Linked DNA regions of Homo sapiens. The protein of the gene in region 3 purifies or fractionates together with the protein of the main gene of each other region. This does not show direct contact. Each region holds a gene or a part of one and is shown on either strand. Other genes may lie near its edges.

Region 1 (2,243 bases), on a different chromosome or scaffold from region 3:
TGGTCTTGAACTCCTGACCTCAGGTGATCCGCCCGCCTCGGCGGGCGGCCAAAGTGCTGGGATTACAGGCATGAGCCACCGCACCCGGCCAACCTGTGGCACTTTTAAAATAGATGCCTTACACTCAGGAATCTAGCTAAAAGCTCAAACCTATGCATATTCATGGTGGTGTTGGAGGTTGAATCAACTGTAGTGACGTGAATCATCTCTTTTCTCCCATTTACTCAATGATTAGCTTTCTTCTTATGGTGTAAGGCATTTATCATTGGCGTATTAAATAGTGTATAAGACACCCAAATCTAATGTTAACCCAATACTTTAATATGAACGTTATGATCAGTAGGTAGTATCTTAGATGATACATTTAATCACAGACAAAACAAAAACCTATCTGTATATGATATTAAGAGGAGCACAGAATTGGATAAAGTAGGGTTTATCTTAGTCGGAGACCAAATGGTTTTGATATGTGGTTCCTAGACCAGCAGCATCAGTAGCAACTGGAAATGTGAGATGAACATTCTGAAACACACATCTGGTCAAGAACCACTGTTTTAATAGCTTTAACCACAAAACATCCACATTGTTCCCTAAAGTTATGCTAAGAGTAAAACGAGTAACTGGTTAACTGCCCATGATACATCAATTTAATGGAAAATTATGCAACTGTCAACAAGAATAAGCATATCTATATGTATTGATATAAAACAATCTCTAATATAGTGTTAAGTGAAATAAGCAATATGCAGAACTTAAAAATACTTTTTAGCCGGGCACGGTGGCTCACGCCTGTAATCCCAGCACTGGGAAGCCAAGGCAGGCAGACTGCTTGAGCCCAGGAGTTCAAGACCAACCTGAATGACATGGTGAGACCCTGTCTCTATGAAAAACACAAAAACTAGCTGGGCATTGGTGGTGTGCGCCTGTAATCCTAGCTACTCAGGAGGCTGAGATGGGAGGATCACTTGGGCCCGGGAGGCGGAGGTTGCAGTGAGCCAAGATTACGCCACAGCACTCCAGCCTGGGCTAGAGTGAGACCCTGTCTCTAAATAAATAAATAAATCTAAAAAATTTAAAGGGGGCATGTGTCTGTATGTATGTATACTTTACACAGTAACAGAATATCTCTTAAAAAACATAAGAAATTAGTAGCTGAAGTTTCCTCCAGGAAGGGAAGCAGGAAGCAGATGACTGGATTATAGGGATGGAAGAAACATTTTTCCTTCTTTTTTTGAGACGGAGTCTCACTCTGTTGCCAGGCTGGAGTACAGTGGCGCGATCTAGGCTCACTGCAACCTCTGCCTCCCGGGTTCGACCGATTCTCCTGTCTCAGCCTCCCCAGTAGCTGGGACTAGGGGTGCGTGCCACCACGCCCAGCTAATTTTTGTATTTTTAGTAGAGACGGGGTTTTACCATGTTGGTCAGGATGGTCTCGCTCTCTTGACCTCGTGATCCGCCCGCCTCGGCCTCCCAAAGTGCTGGGATTACAGGTATGAGCCACCACACCCAGCTCTGGAAGAAATATTTTTCACTACATGTTTTTGTACTGTTTGCATGTTACATTAAGTGCATGTATTATTAATTCAGGTTAATTAATTTAAAAATTTAAGTTTAAGGGCAAAAAGAACCACTACTTTAGAGAGAATGGAGATACTAGCAAGTAAAATATATGAAAGAGCTAGTTGGAAAGGAAGCCAAGCATGGAGTAGAACGTGGGGCCGTCAGCTGCTAAAGGGTACTGAGCGTTAATGGAGGGCGGAGCAGGAAGAAAAGTCAGACCTGGCAAAAAGATCATCTTCCCTCCATATCCTTTCTGAGGTAATATTAGGTAAACTGAGACCTGGACCAGAGGGCTCAATTATATCCATAGTCACCTTTATTCTGAATTAACCATTTATCAAGAGTGCGCCTGAAAAGAGTAGAAAAAAATAAAGGAGCCCATCAAAAAAAAGTTCCCTGGCAAGTGGGAGGGAGGACATGATGTTAGGAGCCCTGTTTGGGGAAGGAAATGTTATCCAGGTCATGGATGCCATTTTTGTCAATGATTCGAACACTGAAGGTTGGCAGATTCAGGATGAAGCGTTTCTGGAGCTGCAGAGAGACATGGAGGAAATCAGTCAACAAATGATTACTAAGTTCTATGTGCCAGGCTCTGTTCTAGACACTGGGGATACAAGCAAACAAAAATCCCTGCTTTTGTGGAACTGATATTCTACTGGAGGCAGTTGGCAGTAGGGCACTAG
Region 2 (3,500 bases), on a different chromosome or scaffold from region 3:
CTTGTCATAATCTGCAGTATAGTTCCTCACGATATCAAACACTGAAGGAGAGGTACAACCCATGTTTGTTTTACCCAACAATGACACAGGTACCTTCAAATTCAGCCAGGGTAAAAGTCAGGGTGATATATTACACATGAGGAAAAGTGCCAACAAAATAGTGAAACCAAAAACCACAACTAACAAATCTTGATGTGTTGCTTGTGCTCAATTTTCCAAATACCCTTGCATTTGTAATACTAATGCCAAACACCTGCTGGTTAGCCCATCAAACAGGGGCTAACTTTAAAGTCCACACTAAAGTATCCATTATTTTGGAGGTAATAAGGAACTATCAAAGGTTTCAAGCAAGGGCATGACAGTCAGATTTACGCTTTGGCCAGCAGTGTGAAGATGAACTGAGAAGCATAAAGATCAGAGGCAGGGAAAGCATAAGGCAATTACTGCAAAAGTTTAGCTAAGAGGTAAAGAGAGACTAGGCAAACTGAGGAACAGTAGAAATAAAAGAAGAAAGCAGTTGCAAAAGACCGTTTTTAAAAAGGCAATTTTTTAAAGTTGTTAAAACATTAACTGAGCTGGGCTTTATATCAGGTAATTTACATAAATTAGCACTGAATTCTCCTAAATTTGCATATTAGGAAACTAAGAAACAGAGAATTTTAGAAATGCCCAAAAGGTACATACTAGACCACGTCAGAACCTGTTCTTTATCTACAAAAACATGCTGCTTTCTACTTCTGTCTTCAGATCCAAGAATTTGCTCCACTGGCCTTCCCATGTGGGATATTAGATGCAACTGGATTTCAAATCCGACTGGGCGCGGTGGCTCATGCCTGTAATCCCAGCACTTTGGGAGGCTGAGGTGGGTGGATCATTTGAGTCAGGAGTTCAAGACCAGCCTGGCCAACATGGTGAAACACTGTCTCTACTAAAAATACAAAAATTAGCCTGGTGTGGAGGCATACACCTGTAGTCCCAGCTACTAGGGAGGCTGAGGCAGGAGAATTGCATGAACCCAAAAGGCAGAGGTTGCACTGAGCTGAGATCATGCCACTGCACTCCAGCCTGGGTGACAGAACAAGACTCCATCTCAAAAAAGAAAAAAAATTAATGGACAGGCCATTAATAAATACTTAATGACTAAATCATTTGCTTGATCATTTCCCAAATGAATTATATCTAAATAGTTTCCTATTTAATCTCTGGTTAAAGAATCATCAGTCCCTTCCCTTTTTCAATCATAATCCATTCCAGTGATTTGTAATCAAGGAAAGGAGAGGAAAAAAAGACAAGGAAAATGCTTACTCTCTGAAAAATATAATCCAAATGCCCTTGACAGTAATACGCCTGCTCTCTACTCTGAAATCTTTTCACTATTTGTGCCTGTACCGGTTATGTGAAATTTATTATGACCTTACATCCCAATATATCCTTTTTTAGCTCTGTATTATGTCTTCTCAAGTAAAATTAAAACCCCTGAAGGCAAAGGCTGTAATTTCATCTTTTCAAATTATTCTTGCCAAACACAATATTCTGTACATACTAGACATGCCAGTTTTATTAACAAGCATGCATATAAGACGGTATATCTTTCTTCAGGGCTTCTAATTAAGTTTTTGATTACAACAGTACCTACCCACCCCATACCTGTAGGTTTTCATCTTTTATCAAGAAAATGCTTTCCCCACGTTGAAGGCTTTCAGACTGCTTTGCAAATTATAGCAAATCTCAACTAGAAAATACTTCTCTTTGATGGCAAATCAGTGTGGGCCAAGGAATTGATCAGTTACAGATTTCTAACACCCAAGGAAATTATCTCTCATCCTGACTGGATAAAATACTACTTTCCTATTCTAGAAATAACCAATGACCATTTTGCTCTTAGAAACACTAAGCTCAGAGAAGAGTAACTCATACAGTTGCAGAAAGTCAACTCTGTCCAGAACTTCTGACCTATTTTTGCCTCTATTCCCCAGAAATTTATTAATCAGTGATCAATGAAGTCATAAAACTTTCAAAGTACCCTTCTATTCCTCAAAGAATCTCTCAGCTATAAATCCTCTGGCTATAACTATAAAAACCACAGGTAGATGGGTAACATACCTGCATAAGGAGCCAACATATTAACCACTTCTATTCGGTCAATATAGATCATGACCCCACCACTAAAAACAAAGAAAAAAAGTGTGAACTACTAAAGGCAATCCATAAAACACAGTTATAGATAGACCTGGGGAGAAGCTGATAATGAAACATACTAATATTCACTTAAAACACAGAAAGAGTTCGCTTCCTTTTTCATAGCATTTCTGTCCCTCTATAGATGTCAATGTCTTTTTTACACTTGTAATAGTCATTTAAAATAAGTAATTTAAAAAATACCTTGAACTTCACATTCTTCTTTTGATACAATTCAATGCAGTGATTATACCCTAGAAATAATTTGGGCCCTGCTTGCCTTTCTTTCCCTAAACCTCTTTAGGACAGCAATTCTCAAAGTGAGGTCTTCAGACCAGCAGTATCAGCATCACCCAGGAACTTTTGTTAGAAATGCAAATTCTCGGGCCTCACCCCAGACCTATTGAATCAGAAACTCTAAATTAGATGGCATTTAACACTACAGATGAGAAGACGGTGGGATGATTAATTTTAAACTATGTTTTATTAAGCACCTATTCTGGGCCAAGTTCTGGTTAGGCACTTCATATACAGTAATTCTAATCCTTACAACAACTCTGCAAGGTAGATTTTACTGCCTTTATAAAGGAGGAAACTAAGCTTTAAAGTGTCAATAAAGGAATGTGTTGGGGAAAGAGGTATATAAAAACTGTCTGTACTTTTTGGTCAATTTCACTATGAACCTAAAACTGCTGTAAAAAATAAAGTCTTTAAAAAATAGTCAATAAAGCAGATGCAGCAGTGCTAATACACAGTTAGGTCTACTTGCTCTAAAACTCCAGTTTTTTCCAATAATACCATAAGAACAATAATGGTTCTTAAGATGGAAAAGCTCCTATTTGGAGATAGGCCTTTGCTCAAACAATGCTCAGATCAGAAGTCCCCTTGGGTTAACTATCATGCCTATTTGAGATATGTCTAAGTGATCATAGCTGTAGGAACAGAAACTCTGTCTGAGCTAAAGGGAGGCTCGTAGGCAAAGAGAAAGCTTACCTTGTTCCACAAGGCACATTTTTAACTTCATCAGTTTGTAGTGTTGTCTAGGGAGGAAAAGATATCTCATCAACACTCAAGACACACATTGTCAAAAAACTACTGGTACCAGAGGCAAATCTCTGGAAAGCTGCTGACAGTAAGTACAGCAGAGATCCATCACAATTTCAGTTCCCAAAGATTAGCTCTCAGAACAGTCATTTCTTTTTGTATTCTAGTAGAAATGAAAGACTTGAGACAGAAAATATTTTACAGCAATTTTTTTTTTTTTTTGGAGACAGAGTCTTGCTTTGTCACCCAGGCTGGAATGCAGTGGTGCAATCTTGGCT
Region 3 (3,500 bases):
CAGAGTCTCACTCTGTCGCCCGGGCTGGACTGCAGCGGCGCATTCTTGGCTCACTGCAACTTCCACCTCCCAGGTTCAAGCGATTCTCCTGCCTCAGCTTCCCAAGTAGCTGAGATTACAGGCACCTGCCACCATGCCTGGCTAATTTTTGTATTTTTAGTAGAGACGGGTTTCACCATGTTGGTCAGGCTGGTCTCAATCTCCTGACCTCAGGTGATCCTCCCACCTCGGCCTCCCAAAGTGCTGAGATTACAGGTGTGAGCCACCATGCCAGGCCTGTACCCCTTAACTTTTGTACCCTGAGCATGCATTATCTATTTTTTAAAATTTTTTTAAAGTTTAGAATCTACTAAACTAACCTGACTAGTTCTGCAATTCCACATTATTTTTCTCACCATATGATGACAAACTGATGAGTAACAAACCAAAACAAGTTCTCCTGTTACAGCACAGTATTTCAACTATGGCCAGGCGTGGTGGCTCATGCCTGTAATCTCAGCACTTTGGGAGGCCAAGGTTAGTGGATCACCTGAGGTCAGCAGTTCAAGACCAGCCTGGCCAACATGGTGAAATCCCGTGTCTACTAAAAATACAAAAAATTAGCTGGGCATGGTGGTGCACACCTGTAATCTCAGCTACTTGGGTGGCTGAGGCAGGAGAATTGCTTGAACCCAGGAGGCGGAGATTGCAGTGAGCCGAGATTGTGCCATTGCACTCCAGCCTGGGCGACAGAGAAAGACTCTGACTCAAAAAAAAAAAAATTCAACTATATTAAAACACTTCAGAATGTTTCTCATAGCTATAGTGCTGTCAAAGCTTCAAGTCATTTTTTAAAAACTCACCAAATGCCTTTTTTTTCCAGTCTACACAAAATAAAAACAAGTTTTACTTGTCCCCGTTCAGAGTGTAGCAGGTCAGGCAGCAGTGATCCCAGCAACCCTGACTTACTCAAGGCTCAAAGTTAATTCCCTTCACTCCAAGGCCCAGCAGGAAAATGTCCCTTCCAGAATGGTTCTACTCTTCTACTGGAGAAAACAGAAACTAAATTATAAAATAGTTAGGCCTGCCTGGGAGAAAAAGAGAGGAAGGTGCATTTATCACCATGTAACCCTACAGGTGTTTTTGACCCTGTAAAATGTTGGCCACCAACAGGTGCTTATTTATGACCTTGCAAAGACATGGGATTAAACTACTAGGAACCTATTCCAAGACATGGTCAATCTGGATATTTCTTAGACTCCTGCCTACACCAGCACCACTCCCCTGCGCCCCCTACCATTTGGTGGTTTCCTCCCTTTAAGGACAATTCACGTATTGTTACCTCTCTGCAGGCTCCCAGAAACAAACACATAATACAAACATGCACACACTCCCCTTCATCACATAGATGATAACTGTGTTCCTTCTTTAACAAGACTAGGGAAATAGACGAGAGTCCGCACGCAAAGCATACCTAGGAGGTGATCAAATAGCAGTCCCCTTCTCCCTCACCTGGAAGACATTCCTTTTATTTTTAATTTATCTAGGCTCACATCCAATTATTCACAAGTTTAGTCTTTTTTCCTTCAGCTGCCCCAACATTTCTGGAGCTAACATTTTTCCCTCATATACCTTGAAATAGTCAACTCATAAAGACTAAAACCTAGGAAGTCACTTTCAGCTCTTAATTTTGTTTTGTTTTTTTTTTTTGAGACCAGAGTCTCACTCTGGCCCAAACTGCAGTGCAGTGGCACAATCATAGCTCACTGTAACCTTGAGCTTCTGGGTTCAAGCAATCCTCCTGCCTCAGCCTCCCAAGCAGCTAGGACTACAGCACAGGCCACTACACTTAATTTGCATAATTAAGTCAGAACCTTGACAGTAGTTTCATATTTCTATTTCTCCATTTACATGTCTTGCTCTTAGAATTTTAGAAGCAGGTATTTTATATCTTTAAAGGGTTGTAAAACAAATTAAATAAGGAAGTTGCAGAGCCTAAAATATTCACCATCTGAGAGCACTTTAGAGAAAAATTGGCTGACTCTTATTTTAAAAAGCCTATTTTCACATAATTATAATGGTGACTAATTTTTTTTTTTTTTTTGGTAGAGCAGGGGGTCTCACTATGTTGCCCAGACTCCTGGGCAGCTCCTGGCCTCAAGCAATCCTCCACCTCCTGCCTCAGCCTCCGCCTCTCAAACTGCTGAGACTGCCGGTGTGAACCACTGAACCCAGCCCTTAAGTTTTATAATAATACGAAAATCGGCTCTTTAAAATAGGATTCAGCCAATTTTTCTCTAAAGTGCTCTCAGATAGTGAATATTTTAGGCTCTGCAACTTCCTTAATTTATTTAATTTGTTTTACAACCCTTTAAAAATATAAAAACCATTCTTAGCTGTTAAGACAAAAACAGGCCTAGTCAAATAGGTCACGAGTTTGCCAATCCCTGTTCTAAATGGTCAATTCACTTTTATCCACTTTTGTTTGTGGTCATTTTTCCCCTTGAGAGTTCTATTTAAATGATATTATTTGCATAATTAAGTCAGAACCTTGACATTAGTTTCATATTTCTATTTCTCCATTCACGTATCTTGCTCTTAGAATTTTAGAAGCAGATATTTAAGAAAGCAGAAAAGGGAACTAATAAAAGTAATGAGTAAGAATTAAAAAATGAAAAAGCCAAAACACCTGAACAATCCAAAACCATGCTAGAATGGACCAAGAGGTAGCTGAATGGAAGCATTATCTGAGCAATGTAAAATAGCCCAGAAATGAGTAACAAAATAAAAACTCATCTGAAATGAAACTTTAGGATGGAAGTTTTAGAAAGACAAGGAGAAACAAATTCTCAGGTCAAACCCACATATTTGTTAGTGTAAAAACCCTGAAGTCTCCTCCCAAATCCTTTCTCAATGTCATGCCTGAGGGCCACCTGGAGAGGCCCCCTTGGGAGGAGGAAGTTTTAGGTCACTAGATCTCCCGTCCTCTTCCCACTCTACATAAATCTATCTTCCACACTGCTCCCAATCTTCTAAAAGAAATCATGCCAGCACCCCCACTCCTCCATGCCCCACCCCCACTTAAGCCCCATCAATGGCTTCTCTCACTCCACAAAATACTGTCCACACTTGGTAGAGCAAGCAAGGTCAAGGTTACATGACATCACACTCTAGCCTCTTCCTAGGTCAGTTTTTCAACCACTAGTGTTCCTCAAATCACCTAGGGCATTCATTAAAATGAAGATTCCAAGGCTCCACCCTTCTCTCTGAAATGGATCCCCAGGGAAACTACATTTTACAAGTACCCCAGATGACCACATACCAGGATGCCAGAGGTCCACATTTTGAGAAAGAAACCTTCAAGGGGGTTGCTCACCTCCTCCTCTCACAGCAGAGCCACCTGCCCCACCTCCTTCACCTCCTCCCCACCTCCTTCACCCCCGGTCTCCTCTTCACCTTCTCAACCTCCCTCTTAAATCAGAAGATTCAACAGACTTTTAATTTAACAGCCCAGCTTCCGG
Region 4 (3,500 bases), on a different chromosome or scaffold from region 3:
ACTGGTTAGCTATATGGAATTAAATAAATTCCTATTTATTGGTGTGTGTTTTAAGATGCAACAGACTAGAACATGTTGAAGGCTGTTGGGTGGATGTTAGCGGAAAGGAGGAGAGGGAGATCAAGGTACAGTAGAAAAAGTGAGAAAAAAATGCGGACAGGGCTGGGATGCAGAACCCTGGGAGAGCAATTTGCCTCTAAAGGAAGGTCTAGGGTAGTAGACCAACTCAATTCTTATAAAGTAAGATTCTAGAGATATCAAAGATTTTTTTAAGTTATAAAACATACAATTATACAAAAAAAAATGTCATAGAGACCCATAAATTCACTGCCAAGTTAAACAGATGTTAATGTTTTGCCTGATTTGTTTCAGATCTCTGGTTTAAAAAAAGGAATAAAATGCTTGTGCTAATAGCTAAAGCCCACCTTCATATTTAGTCACTCTCCCTCCCGCCAGAAACAACCACAACCCTCACTATGTTTGTTTTGTATTTTTATTACTGATATATATATTACAGACAATAGATAGTGTTTTGTGTTTTAAAATTATACATCAGGAGTATCAACTTGTTTTTTTCACTGATCAGTGTGTTTGCCATTCAATGGCATGACATGGAACTCTGGTTGAGTGATTTTTTTTTTTTTTTTTTTTTTTTTTTTTTTGAGACAGAGTCTCGCTCTGTCACCCAGGCTGGAATACAGTAGTGCAATCTAGGCTCACTGCAACCTCGGCCTCCTGGGTTCAAGCGATTCTGCTGCCTCAGCCTCCTGAGTAGCTGGGACTATAGGTGCCCACCACCACGCCCAGTTAATTTTTATATTTTTAGTAGGGAAGGGGTTTCACCATGTTGGCCAGGCTGGTCTTGAACTCCTGACCTCAAGTGATCCACCCACCTTGGCCTCCCAAAGTGCTGGGATTACAGGTGTGAGCCACCGTGCCTGGCCTGGTTGAGTGATTTTAATGTCTGTATTGTGTTTCATTGCTTACTTACCCATTCCTCTGTTGATAAACAGTTGGGTTTCAACTCTAATGCCCTTATACACAGTGCTGCAATGTAGGTCTTATTGTGAGTGTACAAGAATTTCTCCAGGGAAATACCTAGAAAGTAGAATCACTGGGTTACAGGAGTGTATGTTATTGGTGAATTCAATTTTTTGTTTGTTTTGTTTTGTTTTGTTTTTTGAGATAGAGTTTCACTCTTGTTGCCCAGGCTGGAGTGCAATGGCGTGATCTTGGCTCACTGCAACCTCCGCCTCCCAGGATCAAGCGATTGTCCTGCCTCAGCCTCCTGAGTAGCTGGGACTACAGGCGCCTGCCACCATGCCCAGCTAATTTTTGTATTTTTAGTGGAGACGGGGTTTCACCATGTTGGCCAGGCTGGTCTTGAACTCCTTACATTGTGATCCGTCCACCTTGGCCTCCCAAAGTGCTGGGATTACAGGTGTGAGCCACCATGCCTGGCCCTCAATTTTTTTAATGATTGAAAAAATATATAACCTAAAAGTTATCATTCTAACAGTCTTTAAGTGTACAATTCAGTGGAAACATTCAGTGTTCTATCACCATCACTACTATTTCCAAAACTTTTTTCATCATCCCAAACAAAAATAACTCCTATTTCTCCCTCTCCCAGACTCTGTTCTACTTTCTGTCTGTATGAGTTTCCTGTTCTAGGTACTTCACATGAGTGAAATCATACAAGATTTGTCCTTTTGTGTCTGGCTTATTTCACTTAGCATGGTGTTTTCAAGGTTCATCCATGTTGTAGCATATATCAGAATTTTATTTCTTTTTATGGCTTAATCATGTTCCATTGTCTGTATATACATTTTGTTTACCTATTTATCAATGGATGGACAAATAGGTTTTCATCTTTTGGTTACTGTGAATAATGCTGCGATGAACATTGGTGTACAAGTATCTGTTTGAGTCCTGTTTTCAATTCTTTTGGGTCTGTACCTAGGAGTAGAATGTGCCTTATGGTAATTCTAGGTTTAGTTTTTTGAGGAACTGCCAAACTGTTTTCCATAGCAGTTGCATCATTTTACATTCCTAGTAGCAGTGCACAGGGTTCCAGTTTCTCCACACTACCTCCATCACTTATTTTCCTTTGTTTTCTTTTTCTTTTTTTTCAGTAATAGCCATCTTAATGGGTGTGAAGTAGTATCTCATAGTGGTTTTTGATTTGCATTTACCTAGTGATTAATGATGTTGAACATCTTTTCATATGCTTGGTGACCATTTGTATATCTTTTTTGGAGAAATGTCTATTCAAATCCTCTGCCCATTTTTGAATTGAGTTGGTTTTTGTTGGTGAGTTGTGAGAGTTCTTTATGTAATAAATTCTGAATATTAATCCCTTATCAGATCTATGATTTGTAAGTATTTTCTCCCATCCTGTGGTTGCCTTTTTACTATCTTTTGTTTTGCTTTGTTTTTTGGAGACAGAGTTTCACTCTTGTTGCCCAGGCTGGAGTGTAATGGCGCGATCTCAGCTCACTGCAACCTCCGCCTCCCAGGTTCAAGCGATTCTCCTGCATCAGCAGTGTCCTTTGGTGCACAAAAGCTTTTAATTTTGATTTCCAAGAGTTTTATAGTTTTAGCTCTTAAATTTAGGTCTTTGATTCATTTGAGGTTAATTTTTTTTTCTTAGAGATGGGGGTCTCGTTATGTTGCCCAGGCTAGCCTCAAACTCCTGGGCTCAGGTAAGCTTCCTACTTCAGCTTCTGAGTAGGTGGGATTATAGGGGTGTGCCATTGTGCCCAGCTGCTGATTTTGAGTTAATTTTTGTATGTGGTGTAATTTTTGCATATGGTCCAACTTCATTGTTTTGAATATGGATATCCAGTTTTCCTGGCATCGTTTGTTGAAAAGACTGTCCTTTCCCCATGGAATATTCTTGGTATCCTTACCAAAAATCAGTTGACCATATATGTGAGGGTTTATTTCTGGCCTTTCTATACTATTCCATTGGTAAATATGTCTGTCTTTTTGCCAGTATCACACTGTTTTGATTATAGTAGCTTTGTATTAAGATTTAAGTCAGGAAATGTGAGTCCTCTAACTTTGTTCTTTTTTTAATATTGTTATGGATATTTGGGATCCCTGGACATTCCATGTGAATTTTAAGATTTTTTTTTTTCTATAAAAAACACCATTGGATGCCTTTCATTTCTTTTTCATTCCTAATCACTCTAAAACTTCCAGTATTATGTTGAATAGAAATGAAAAGAATGGCTGTCCTTGTCTTGTTCCTAATCTTAAGGGAGAAGCTTTCAATGTTTCACCATTGAGTATGACGTTAACTGTGGGTTTTTCTTATATGGACTTTATCAATAACTGAAGACATTCCCTCCTATTCCTAGTTGATTGTTTTTTTACATGAAAAGGTTATTGAATTTATCAAGTCCATTTTCTGCATCAGTTGAGATGATCATTTGGGTTTTTTCCCCTTCATTCTATTAATGTATATGACATTGATTTACCTATGTTGAACCATC

Evidence for each region. Proteins that work in one complex are often made in the same cells at the same time.
Region 1: the proteins of AMFR (region 3) and PSMB2 purify together in Homo sapiens (affinity purification with mass spectrometry; 2 studies listed by BioGRID and IntAct, with this or other methods). This does not show direct contact.
Region 2: the proteins of AMFR (region 3) and ERLIN1 purify together in Homo sapiens (affinity purification with mass spectrometry; 3 studies listed by BioGRID and IntAct, with this or other methods). This does not show direct contact.
Region 4: the proteins of AMFR (region 3) and OS9 purify together in Homo sapiens (affinity purification with western blotting; 2 studies listed by BioGRID, with this or other methods). This does not show direct contact.

What each region holds. Positions count from the first base shown.
Region 1 is NC_000001.11:35,601,284-35,603,526, forward strand, and holds part of PSMB2 (proteasome subunit beta type-2), read right to left. Parts: intron 2,092-2,243; coding exon 1,984-2,091; 3' UTR 1-1,983. UniProt on the Homo sapiens protein: Non-catalytic component of the 20S core proteasome complex involved in the proteolytic degradation of most intracellular proteins. This complex plays numerous essential roles within the cell by associating with different regulatory particles.
Region 2 is NC_000010.11:100,176,030-100,179,529, forward strand, and holds part of ERLIN1 (erlin-1), read right to left. Parts: intron 3,219-3,500; coding exon 3,172-3,218; intron 2,166-3,171; coding exon 2,104-2,165; intron 42-2,103; coding exon 1-41. UniProt on the Homo sapiens protein: Component of the ERLIN1/ERLIN2 complex which mediates the endoplasmic reticulum-associated degradation (ERAD) of inositol 1,4,5-trisphosphate receptors (IP3Rs).
Region 3 is NC_000016.10:56,419,046-56,422,545, forward strand, and holds part of AMFR (E3 ubiquitin-protein ligase AMFR), read right to left. Parts: intron 1-3,500. UniProt on the Homo sapiens protein: E3 ubiquitin-protein ligase that mediates the polyubiquitination of lysine and cysteine residues on target proteins, such as CD3D, CYP3A4, CFTR, INSIG1, SOAT2/ACAT2 and APOB for proteasomal degradation.
Region 4 is NC_000012.12:57,700,632-57,704,131, forward strand, and holds part of OS9 (protein OS-9 isoform 1 precursor), read left to right. Parts: intron 1-3,500. UniProt on the Homo sapiens protein: Lectin component of the HRD1 complex, which functions in endoplasmic reticulum (ER) quality control and ER-associated degradation (ERAD).